Regions from separate parts of the Homo sapiens genome. Here region 2 is linked to region 1. The links come from fine-mapping of genetic effects on gene expression. A gene starts in region 1. The other region holds a variant in brackets. All regions are shown on one strand. Distances are between the middles of the regions.

Region 1 (5,372 bases):
TCTAGCTCTGTCACCCAGGCTGGAGTGCAATGGCACGATCTCAGCTCACTGCAACCTCTGCCTCCTGGGTTCAAGCGATTCTCCTGCCTCAGCCTCCCAAGTAGCTAGGATTACAGGTGCCTGACACCACACCCGGCTAATTTTTTGTATTTTTAGTAGAGACGGGGTTTCACCATGTTGGCCAGGCTGGTCTTGAACTCCTGACCTCAAGTAATGCACCCACCTCGGGCCTCCCAAAGTGCTGGGATTACACGCGTGAGACACCGAGCCCGGCCTTAAAATAGCTTTTTAAACCCTAGACAAAAGGAAACATTTTAACTAGCAGTTGTTTTCGCAGCCATAAAAACATGCACAAAAGAACACCCATTAAAGAGAGGAAAGATGAAACTGTATTTACTGAGGATCTACTCTGCACCAGGTTCTTTGTTAACTTTTCCAACAACAATCTTATGAAGTGGACATATTAGTAATCCCATTTTACAGTTGAGGAAACTGAGGTTCAGGGAGGTTACAGAATTTTTCCAATATGCAGTCAGGAGATGGAAAGCCATCCACTTACACTGAGATGGACATTCACTCTACTTTTCCTTTCTAAGGAAGAAAGAAGACTGTAAAGGTTCTGGAAAGAGTTCTAATTGCCAGTTTCAGTGTTGGAAACTTAGAACTGGCATTAAAGTGTCCATTGCCTCTTGCCAGTTTTCACTCAGGAGACTGTTTCACATCTATTTCTTTTTCTCATAGAATTCTTTTATTTGTGTACAAAAGAAGAATGAAAGAAGTCCGTGCATTTGTATATACTAGTGCACAGAATTTTTTTAGTATGAACACATCGATAGGCACAAACACACATAAAATGTAACTTGATAACAGTAGCTGCCTCTGGAGAGAGGAACTGAAGAACGGGGTCTTTCACACCTATTTTAAACTCATAAGCCAGAAGAACAAGGGCATCTCACAGAAGTACATATTCACTGTTATTTCATTGTAGGCCTCCTGCTTGTCTCTCTTTGTGCAAGCATTCTCCCCTCTCTGGGCTTTAATTTCCCCACGTGAAAAAAAGACACTCTGACTTAGGAGTCCTTAGAATACCAGGAGGGTGCTTTTCCTCTATTTGCACTTAATTCTATCCTCCATGTCTCGGAGGGTCCAAACGCTCTCGGTCACCATTCACTAAGTATTTATTGATCATCTACTATGCATCATGCACTGGAGATTGGAGATAGATAGGACAGAGACCCTGATCTTAAGGAGTTGGTGGGAGAGGCAGACAGGTGACAAACCACTTCAACTCCATGTGCCTGTGCTTCCTGCAGAAGAACACAGAAAAGAGAGTAACTGTGCTTGCATGACACTTTCTGGGAACTGACACTTTCACAGGAGTGGTGAGGCTAGAGCTGGGTTTTGAAGGATGAGCAGGAGTTTGCCAGGTAGACAAGGTTGGGACATGCCTGGCTTAAAGTGCCAAGGAAGCCTTTCTCAAAGGGCTCACAGAGCTGCTCTCCCATCTCGAGCTCACTGGACCACAAGAAGGAGAAGGCTGGCATCTGCCTCTTCTGTGTGTGTCGCTGATTTTGTGAGAGGTAGGTGGGGGAGGGGGGTAATTCTCAGGGTCCGCCTCTGTTTCTCTACGTGTGTGTTTCTCTTTACTGTCCTTTTAACCACCTCCTTTTGGCCTTTGTGTTTTCTGCCTCCTCTTATGTCTGCCTTTATCTCTGTTTCTCTTTCCAGGCATCTTTCCCTCTGCTGCTCCCGTCTCCCGCTTCTCAGTGTCTCTCCTTCCCCTCCCCCGGTCCCCAGGCCTCCAAGACCACCCACTTGGTTTCCTCTCTCTTCCTGTGCGTTCTGAGTGTTTCTCTGATCGTGTTTCTCTGGGTGTGTGTGAGCTGAGTGTGCTTCTAAGTGTGTTTCTCCGTGTGTGTTTGTGTTAGTGTGCGTGAGCTGTTTTTCTGTTTCTGTGTGTGTGAGCTGTTTCTCAGAGTGTGCTTCTGAGTGTGTGAGCTGTGTTTCTCAGAGTGTGTTTCTGAGTGTTAGCTATGTTTCTGAGTGTTTTCTGAATGTGCTTGTGTGAGCTGTTTATCTTGAGTGTGCTTGAGTGGGTGTGAGCTGATTGTGTTTCTCAGAGTATGTTTCTGAGTGTGTGTGAGCTGAATGTTTCTCCGAGTGTGCTTGTGTGTGTGAGCTGAGTGTGCTTCTGAGCGAGTGTGAACTGTTTCTCGGAGTGTGTTTCTGAGTGTGTGTGAACTGAATGTTTGAGTGTGCTTCTGTGTGTGAGCTGAGTGTTTATCTTGTGTGCCTCTGAGTGCGTGTGTTTCTGAGTGTGTGTGAACTGAATGTTTCTGAGTGTGCTTCTGTGTGTGAGCTGAGTGTTTATCTTGTGTGCTTCTGAGTGCGTGTGTTTCTGAGTGTGTGTGAACTGAATGTTTCTTAGTGTGCTTGTGTGTGTGACCTGAGTGTTTATCTTAAGTGTGCTTCTCAGTGCGTGTGAGCTGAGTGTGTTTCTCGGAGCGTGTGTTCGTGGTCCTTCTCTGCAGTCTGCGTGGCGTTTCTTTGTGTTTTTCTTTCTCTATTCTTCCCTGCGTACTGAAGAGTAAGTTTTCCTGTTTTTCTCCGTCTCTTTCTCTCTCCCTTACTTTCCCCCTTCCCCTCCGGTTCCAGAACCACAAGGACAGAACAGACCCAAGACCCTACCCGCTTCCCCGTGCTCGTCCACCCAGGACGCCCACTCTGTCCCCGGGAGGGAGGGACCCCCAGCCCGCCCGGGACGCGCCGCACGGGCCCCGGAGCGCTCCGGGGCGCGGCTCCTACTCCTTTCCCCAACTTCGGGCGCGCGGCCCCGCGGCAAGAACAAAGCTGCGGCACCCGCCTCCCCTCTCCCCGGCAGCCGGGCCAGGCCCCGCGCCCCCGCGTCCCCTTCCCCGACTCGCCGCGGCCCGCCCGGCCCGGCGGGGCTCACCCACCTCAGGCTGTGGCTCCCGGGCGCATCCCGCGACTGCCCCGCCGATGGCAAAGTCCGGGCGCGGGCGCGGGCCTGCAGCGGAGCATGCCGGGAAGCGCCGCGGCCCTAGGAATCCAGCCTCGCGCCCCCGCGCCCCGGCCCCCGGCCCCCGGCCCGCGCCAAATCCCCGCCGCCAGGCGCCGCCGTCACCGCCAGGCCCCCCGGCGGCCGGGGCAGCTGGGAGGCGGGCCCTGGCGACCCAACACCCCTTCCTCGCGCCCCCGCGGTGGCCCGTCCGGGCGGCAGACGGAGAGGGGAGCGGAGGGTCCCTGCCTGCGCCCCGCCCCGGGCTGGCGGTCCCAGGCGGCGAGCGCGGATGGGTACCGCAGGGGGGCTGGCGGCGGAGCCAGTGTGCTCCGCCACGGACTGTCCCATTGAAACCCTGCCTCTGCCACTCACTAGCTATGGACAACTTAGTTCAGCCTTTGTGCCTCGGTCTGTAAAACGGGGCTGCTGCTTGTCAGCATCCTCAGAGTTGGTATTAGGAATGATGGGATGCAGGATGCATCGGACTGCCTGGCCCAGGGTAAAGAGTGAATCGAGGGTCGCTCTTATTTACAGCCTGACCCACGGGTCAGTGAGAAGCAGGCCCACCCCTGGCGACTGCCTAGCCAGGGGCAAGAGTACAAATGCAGAGCCCTTGCTAGTAGTCTTGCTGCTTCTATTCCCACACGACTCCATCCCATACATACTGAAGGGGGTCTACTGGTTCAGGCAAACACACACCCCCTACCCTGCCATCCTTCATTCTAACGATACTCAGGCCAGGCAGGGCAGGCTGCCCTGGGTGGATGGAAGTCAGACCTTGGAAGCAGGCTCAGGGCTGTTTACACAGGGATTTCCGGAGTCCAGGGTACCAGGAGCATGATCTAGAAGGGAACATACGCTCCAGCTGGAGTGGGCCAACTAAAGCACGGGGTTCAGGGCAGGATCCCAGTGGTCCAGGTCTGAGGTCAGTATCGGTGACAGTTAACAAAGGATACAGATTGGGTCCTAGGCCGCTTGACACAGGGTCTGCAAACTGGTACCCCCAAGGCCACATCCAGCCCACAGAGGTGGTTTTTTTGGTTCATACTTTTGTTGTTTTATTTTAATTTTTTTGAGACAGAGTCTCAGTCAGTCGCCCAGGCTGGAGTGCTGTGGCACAGTCTTGGCTGTTTACGGGTGGAGGGTGTCCAGGTTCTTGCCTTTATTTATTTATTTATTTATTTATTTATTTATTTTTTGAAACAGAGTCTGGCTCTGTTGCCCAGGCTGGAGTGCAATGGCACGATCTCAGCTCACTGCAACCTCTGCCTCCTGGGTTCAAGCGATTCTCCTGCCTCAGCCCCCCAAGTAGCTGGGATTACAGGTGTGCGCCACCACGTCCCACTAATTTTTTTTGTTATTTTTAGTAGAGACGGGGTTTCGCCACGTTGGCCGGGCTGGTCTGGAACTCCTGACCTCAGGTGATCCACCCACCTCAGCTTCCCAAAGTGCTGGGATTATAGGCATGAGCCACCGCACCCGGCCTGTTCTTGTCATTTTGAACAAAGAATTAGACAAAAGGCACAAGCAAAGCAAGTAAAGAAAGAATGAAGCAACAAAAGCAGAGATTTATTGAAAACAAAAGTGCATTCCACAAGGTGGGAGCAGGCCCCTGCATATGGGCTCAAGAGCCCCTGCTGTAGAATCTTCTGGGGTCCAAATACCTCCTAGAGGTTTCCCATTGGCCACTTGGCGTTCACCCCATGTAAATGAAGTGGTGCCACAATTAGTCTGATTGGTTGTGGAAAGCAACCAATCAGAGGCTGAAGTGAAGTTACAAAGGTTGCACTCCTATGCAAAAGAAGATTTGGCCCGCAATCAGTCTGATCGGTTACTTTCCACAACCAATCAGAGGCTAAAGTGAAGTTACAAAGTTACACTCCTATGCAAAAGAATATTTGGCCGCAATCAGTCTGACTGGTTGCTTTCCACAACCAATCAGAGGCTGAAGTGAAGTTACAAAGTTACACTTCTATGCAAACGCAGGATTGGTTGCGGAAAGGCAATCAGAGGTACTTTCAAAAGATTTTCCATCTGCCAAGCAGAAAGTGGGGAGTGGGGGTTGCAAAGGGAGTAGTCTCTGGTCCGTTTGTTACTTAGGTGCGGAAAGTTGGGGTTTTCCTTTTGATTTAGTTCTAGGAAGTCAGGTGAACCCTTAGGTTTCCTGCCTCCAGACCCTATTCTCCTGCCTCATCTCTCTCCTGAGAGACATGACCCCCATAAATCTTTATGGGATGCAGAGGAACTGTAACTGCTTTATGCCAACTTGGGGCGTAGTTCCTACCTACTGGAGATCATGGAACTCTTGCCCTACTCTGTCTAGTGGAGACAGTGTGGCATCCTGATGGCC
Region 2 (5,372 bases), 37 kb before region 1:
TCAGCTTTCTACGTATGGCTAGCCAGTTTTCCCAGCACCATTTATTAAATAGGGAATCCTTTCCCCATTTCTTGTTTTTGTCAGGTTTGTCAAAGATCAGATGGTTGTAGATGTGTGGTATTATTTCTGAGGGCTCTGCTCTGTTCCGTTGGTCTATATCTCTGTTTTGGTACCAGTACCATGCTGTTTTGGTTACTGTAGCCTTGTGGTATAGTTTGAAGTCAGGTAGCATGATGCCTCCAGCTTTGTTCTTTTGGCTTAGGATTGTCTTGGCAATGCAGGCTCTTTTTTGGTTCCATATGAACTTTAAAGCAGTTTTTTTCCAATTCTCTGAAGAAAGTCCTTGGAAGCTTGATGGGGATGGCATTGAATCTATAAATTACCTTGGGCAGTATGGCCATTTTCATGATATTGATTCTTCCTATCCATGAGCATGGAATGTTCTTCCATTTGTTTTTGTCCTCTTTTATTTCATTGAGCAGTGGTTTGTAGCTCTCCTTGAAGAGATCCTTCTCATCCCTTGTAAGTTGGATTCCTAGGTATTTTATTCTCTTTGAAGCAATTGTGAATGGGAGTTCACTCATGATTTGGCTCTCTGTTTGTCTCTTATTGGTGTATAGGAATGCTTGTGATTTTTGCACATTGATTTTGTATCCTGAGACTTTGCTGAAATTGCTTATCAGCTTGAGGAGATTTTGGGCTGAGACGATGGGGTTTTCTAAATATACAATCATGTCATCTGCAAACAGGGACAATTTGACTTCCTCTTTTCCTAATTGAATACCCTTTATTTCTTTCTCCTGCCTGATTGCCCTGACCAGAACTTCCAACACTATGTTGAATCGGAGTGGTGAGAGAGGGCATCCCTGTCTTGTGCCAGTTTTCAAAGGGAATGCTTCCAGTTTTTGCCCATTCAGTATGATATTAGCTGTGGGTTTGTCATAAATAGTTCTTATTATTTTGAGATACGTCCCATCAATACCGAGTTTATTGAGAGTTTTTAGCATGAAGCGCTGTTGAATTTTGTCAAAGGCCTTTTCTGCATCTATTGAGATAATCATATGGTTTTTGTCTTTGGTTCTGTTTATATGATGGATTACATTTATTGATTTGCATATGTTGAACCAGCCTTGCATCCCAGGGATGAAGCCCACTTGATCATGGTGGATAAGCTTTTTGATGTGCTGCTGGATTCAGTTTGCCAGTATTTTATTGAGGATTTTTGCATCGATGTTCATCAGGGATATTGGTCTAAAATTCTCTTTTTTTGTTGTGTCTCTGCCAGGCTTTGCTATCAGGATGATGCCGGCCTCATAAAATGAGTTAGGGAGGATTCCCTGTTTTTCTATTGATTGGAATAGTTTCAGAAGGAATGGTACCAGCTCCTCTTTGTACCTCTGGTAGAATTTGGCTGTGAATCCATCTGGTCTTGGACTTTTTTTCATTGGTAGGCTATTCATTATTGCCTCAATTTCAGAGCCTGTTATTGGTCTATTCAGGGATTCAACTTCTTCCTGGTTTAGTCTTGGGAGGGTATATGTGTCGAGGAATTTATCCATTTCTTCTAGATTTTCAAGTTTATTTGCATAGAGGTGTTTATAGTATTCTCTGATGGTAGTTTGTATTTCTGCGGGATCAGTGGTGATATCCCCTTTATCATTTTTTTACTGTGTCTATTTGATTCTTCTCTCTTTTCTTCTTTATTAGTCTTGCTAGCAGTCTATCAATTTTGTTGATCTTTTCAAAAAACCAGCTCCTGGATTCATTGATTTTTTGAAAGGTTTTTTGTGTCTCTATCTCCTTCAGTTCTGCTCTGATCTTAGTTATTTCTTGCCTTCTGCTAGCTTTTGAATGTGTTTGCTCTTGCTTCTCTAGTTCTTTTAATTGTGATGTTAGGGTATCAATTTTAGATCTTTCCTGCTTTCTCTTGTGGGCATTTAGTGCAATAAATTTCCCTCTACACACTGCTTTAAATGTGTCCCAGAGATTCTGGTATGTTGTGTCTTTGTTGTCATTGGTTTCAAAGAACATCTTTATTTCTGCCGTCATTTCGTTATGTACCCAGTAGTCATTCAGGAGCAGGTTGTTCAGTTTCCATGTAGTTGAGTGGTTTTGAGTGAGTTTCTTAATCCTGAGTTCTAGTTTGATTGCACTGTGTTCTGAGAGACAGTTTGTTATAATTTCTGTTCTTTTACATTTGCTGAGGAGTGCTTTACTTCCAACTATGTGGTCAATTTTGGAATAAGTGCGAGATGGTGCTGAGAAGAATGTATATTCTGCTGATTTGGGGTGGAGAGTTCTGTAGATGTCTATTAAGTCCACTTGGTGCAGAGCTGAGTTCAATTCCTGGATATCCTTGTTAACGTTCTGTCTCATTGATCTGTCTAATGTTGACAGTGGGGTGTTAAAGTCTCCCATTATTATTGTGTGGGAGTCTAAGTCTCTTTGTAAGTCTCTAAGGACTTGCTTTATGAATCTGGGTGCTCCTGTATTGGGTGCATATATATTTAGGATAGTTAGCTCTTCTTGTTGAATTGATCCCTTTACCATTATGTAATGGCCTTCTTTGTCTCTTTTGATCTTTGTTGGTTTAAAGCCTGTTTTATCAGAGACTAGGATTGCAACCCCTGCTTCTTTTTTTTTTGTTTGTTTTCCATTTGCTTGGTAGATCTTCCTCCAACCCTTTATTTTGAGCCTATGAGAGATTTTGTCACCACCAGGCCTACCTTACAAGAGCTCCTGAAGGAAGCACTAAACATGGAAAGGAACAACCAGTACCAGCCACTGCAAAAACATGCCAAATTGTAAAGACCATGGATGCTAGGAAGAAACTGCATCAACTAA[T/C]GAGCGAAATAACCAGCTAACATCATAACGACAGGATCAAATTCACACATAACAATATTAACCTTAAATGTAATTGGGCTAAATGCTCCAATTAAGAGACACAGACTGGCAAATTGGATAAAGAGTCAAGACCCATCAGTGTGCTGTATTCAGGAGACCCATCTCACATGCAGAGACACACATAGCCTCTTACACTGTTCTAATTCTTTACTTAAATTTGGATAAAGATTTAAAGGAGAGGTTGGTTCAGCTCCCCCATGGTCTCCAGGTCTTTCTTCCTCTAACCTTCCTCCTGCCCCTTGATCTTCCTGTCCCCTATTTTTTGAGACGTATGGAAGGGGCAAGCATGGTAGGGGGTCCCAGGGCTTTTCCCTGGGTGAGGACTTTTTACTAGGCTCTTTCTCTTCTTTGAGGGGGAACATGGGGGCTAATTCCATGATCCATCAGAGAGTGTAACCTATCTCTTCTCGTCAGTATGGGGTTTTATCATTCACATAGAGAATTAAAACTTGGCAAACCCAGTCCTCGTCTGATCCAAAGTTAGGCCAAAAGACTGAAGGCTTACAAATGGGGTCCTTGGGACAGATAAAACAGCAATACTTTTTCATCTTTTGCTTTTCCTTGTCCCTGGTTCGAGAGTTGTCCCTCCAAACCTGCAGCACTCTCCCCAAAAGACTATCCAGGGAATGTCAGAGAGAGTCTTTGATTCCCTCTTTCCTTTGTCCCCTTGGCCTAGAATTTCTGTTTCCCATTTTTGGTCAGTCTCTGTGTCTGAGTTTCCTTGTGTACATAACCCCCCTCTATTGGAGGTTTCTTGCACACCCCGAAAATCACTTCATCCATCTCCGGCCATTTCCCTTGCAGGAGAATGGAACTGCGGATTGGGACTCTGCACTCGCTTCGTATCTAAGATACCTCTCAGTCACACACACTTGACCTCCGAAAATGCCCAACCACCAAGGCAGTACTTATAGTCCAATTTTCTACCTTGGCTCATGCACAAGTTTGCCTGGTTGCCACAGTGCCTGCTTTTCTCCCTCTGTCACCTCCACTGCCTCCTGAGTAACAGTCTCGAGTTTGTCTATGGCTTCTGCAGGGAGCCGGGGCGCCCGGACAGAGCAGGCCACCTAAATCAGGTGGGACACATCTCCCCTCTCACCCAGAGTCTTACTCCACGCAGGCACAGAGATCCCAGATGGGCCTCCAGGTTTGTGAGAAACATACATTCACCCATCCAAACCCGAAGAATGGACTCAGAGACACGAAGAACAGCGGAAGCGAGACTTTTAATGGTGGACTTGCAAGATCAGGTGTCTGGTAGGCAGGCACACCCAGGGCAGTTACAACAGGTAATTTATCTCCTAGCACACAAATCCTCCCCCCAGTTCCTCATTGGTTGAGTACTATGGGGTTACAATCTTCCTAGACATCGCCTAAGTTTCATTATCTCCCTTCTAAGGTTATGCCCTGGTCTCCTCCCCTGCTTAAGTTTCAATTTCCCAATAACAAAACTTTCTTCCCTTTTATGGGCTGACCCCTCTTCTACATTCTATTCACTTATGGTGACCTTCTAGGTGCATGAGACATGTGGTTTGTTACGTTTGCAGCCTGGCTGCCAGTACTTAGATTTATCATGCCTTGAAAATGGATCATTTAAAATGTTTTCTCACATTGATGATCCATGTGGCCCCTCCTAATGCCATCATCCTCTAGCTGTGCCCCCTACTCACCCACCTGCTGATTTTGTATATGGTATTTTGAGTCTCCATAAGCTAAAATGGGTGTATTGTCACCTCCATTTCTTCAACTGTAAAATGGGAATAATTATTCCTACTGCACCATTCCTATATTGGCATGAGGAGAAAAAGGGAATAATGTGTGTGAAATTGCCTTACACATAGTACATGCTTAATCAACATTTGTCTTCCTTAAAAAACCATCATAATGGGTTAGCATGGAAAAAATGTTAAAGAAAATTGTAATTCACTGACAAGCATCTTCATTCAACAGCCAGTGGGACAGAGTGGCCTTCAAGCCAAGAGAATTACATGATGTCACAACTTTCCAAGAGGCGGTGATGGATCTCAGGCTTCACAGGCAGCCTAGTGAAGTGGAAAGAACTTGGGCAGGGAGATAGACAGACCTGCTTTTAGGCCTCTGACCCATCCTTAATAGAAATATTTCTGTCCAAAAAAAAAAAAAGATTACACTGGAATAATCATTTCAACAGCTCCAGTCACTACAAAGTGGAAGATTACAGAGCCTTGATGCCAAGTCTGAGCTGAGCTCAAACCCTTCCTTTGCCATTTGTTATTGAGTGACCTAATTGTCAGTAGGGATGGTAATAATTCAAATTATTATTAGGAGGCTGTGAATTTCAAGTAAGATAAAGTATTTAGTAAGTGCTTAATAATATTAGCTATTGTTGTGTTCTAAGAGCTACAGATGGGTCCCAGTCAGTGTATTAGTGTATTGCCTGCCTAGGCACAACTGTATTCTTGTTTAAGATTTCCATGAAAAATCACACA

Evidence for each region. PIP is the estimated chance that this variant, and not a neighbour inherited with it, causes the effect.
Region 2: its variant is the best candidate, but not a certain one, in a credible set for the expression of TMEM98 in hippocampus (GTEx, PIP 0.82).

Annotation. Positions count from the first base shown.
Region 1 is chr17:32,925,823-32,931,194 of GRCh38, reverse strand. It overlaps TMEM98 (transmembrane protein 98), which reads right to left and starts at 3,042. Exons shown (of 8, transcript NM_015544.3): 1 at 2,958-3,042.
Region 2 is chr17:32,963,193-32,968,564 of GRCh38, reverse strand. No RefSeq gene overlaps it. Among named protein-coding and RNA genes, the nearest start is that of SPACA3, 26 kb to the left of the region's middle. The variant T/C (reference allele first, on the strand shown) is at 2,845.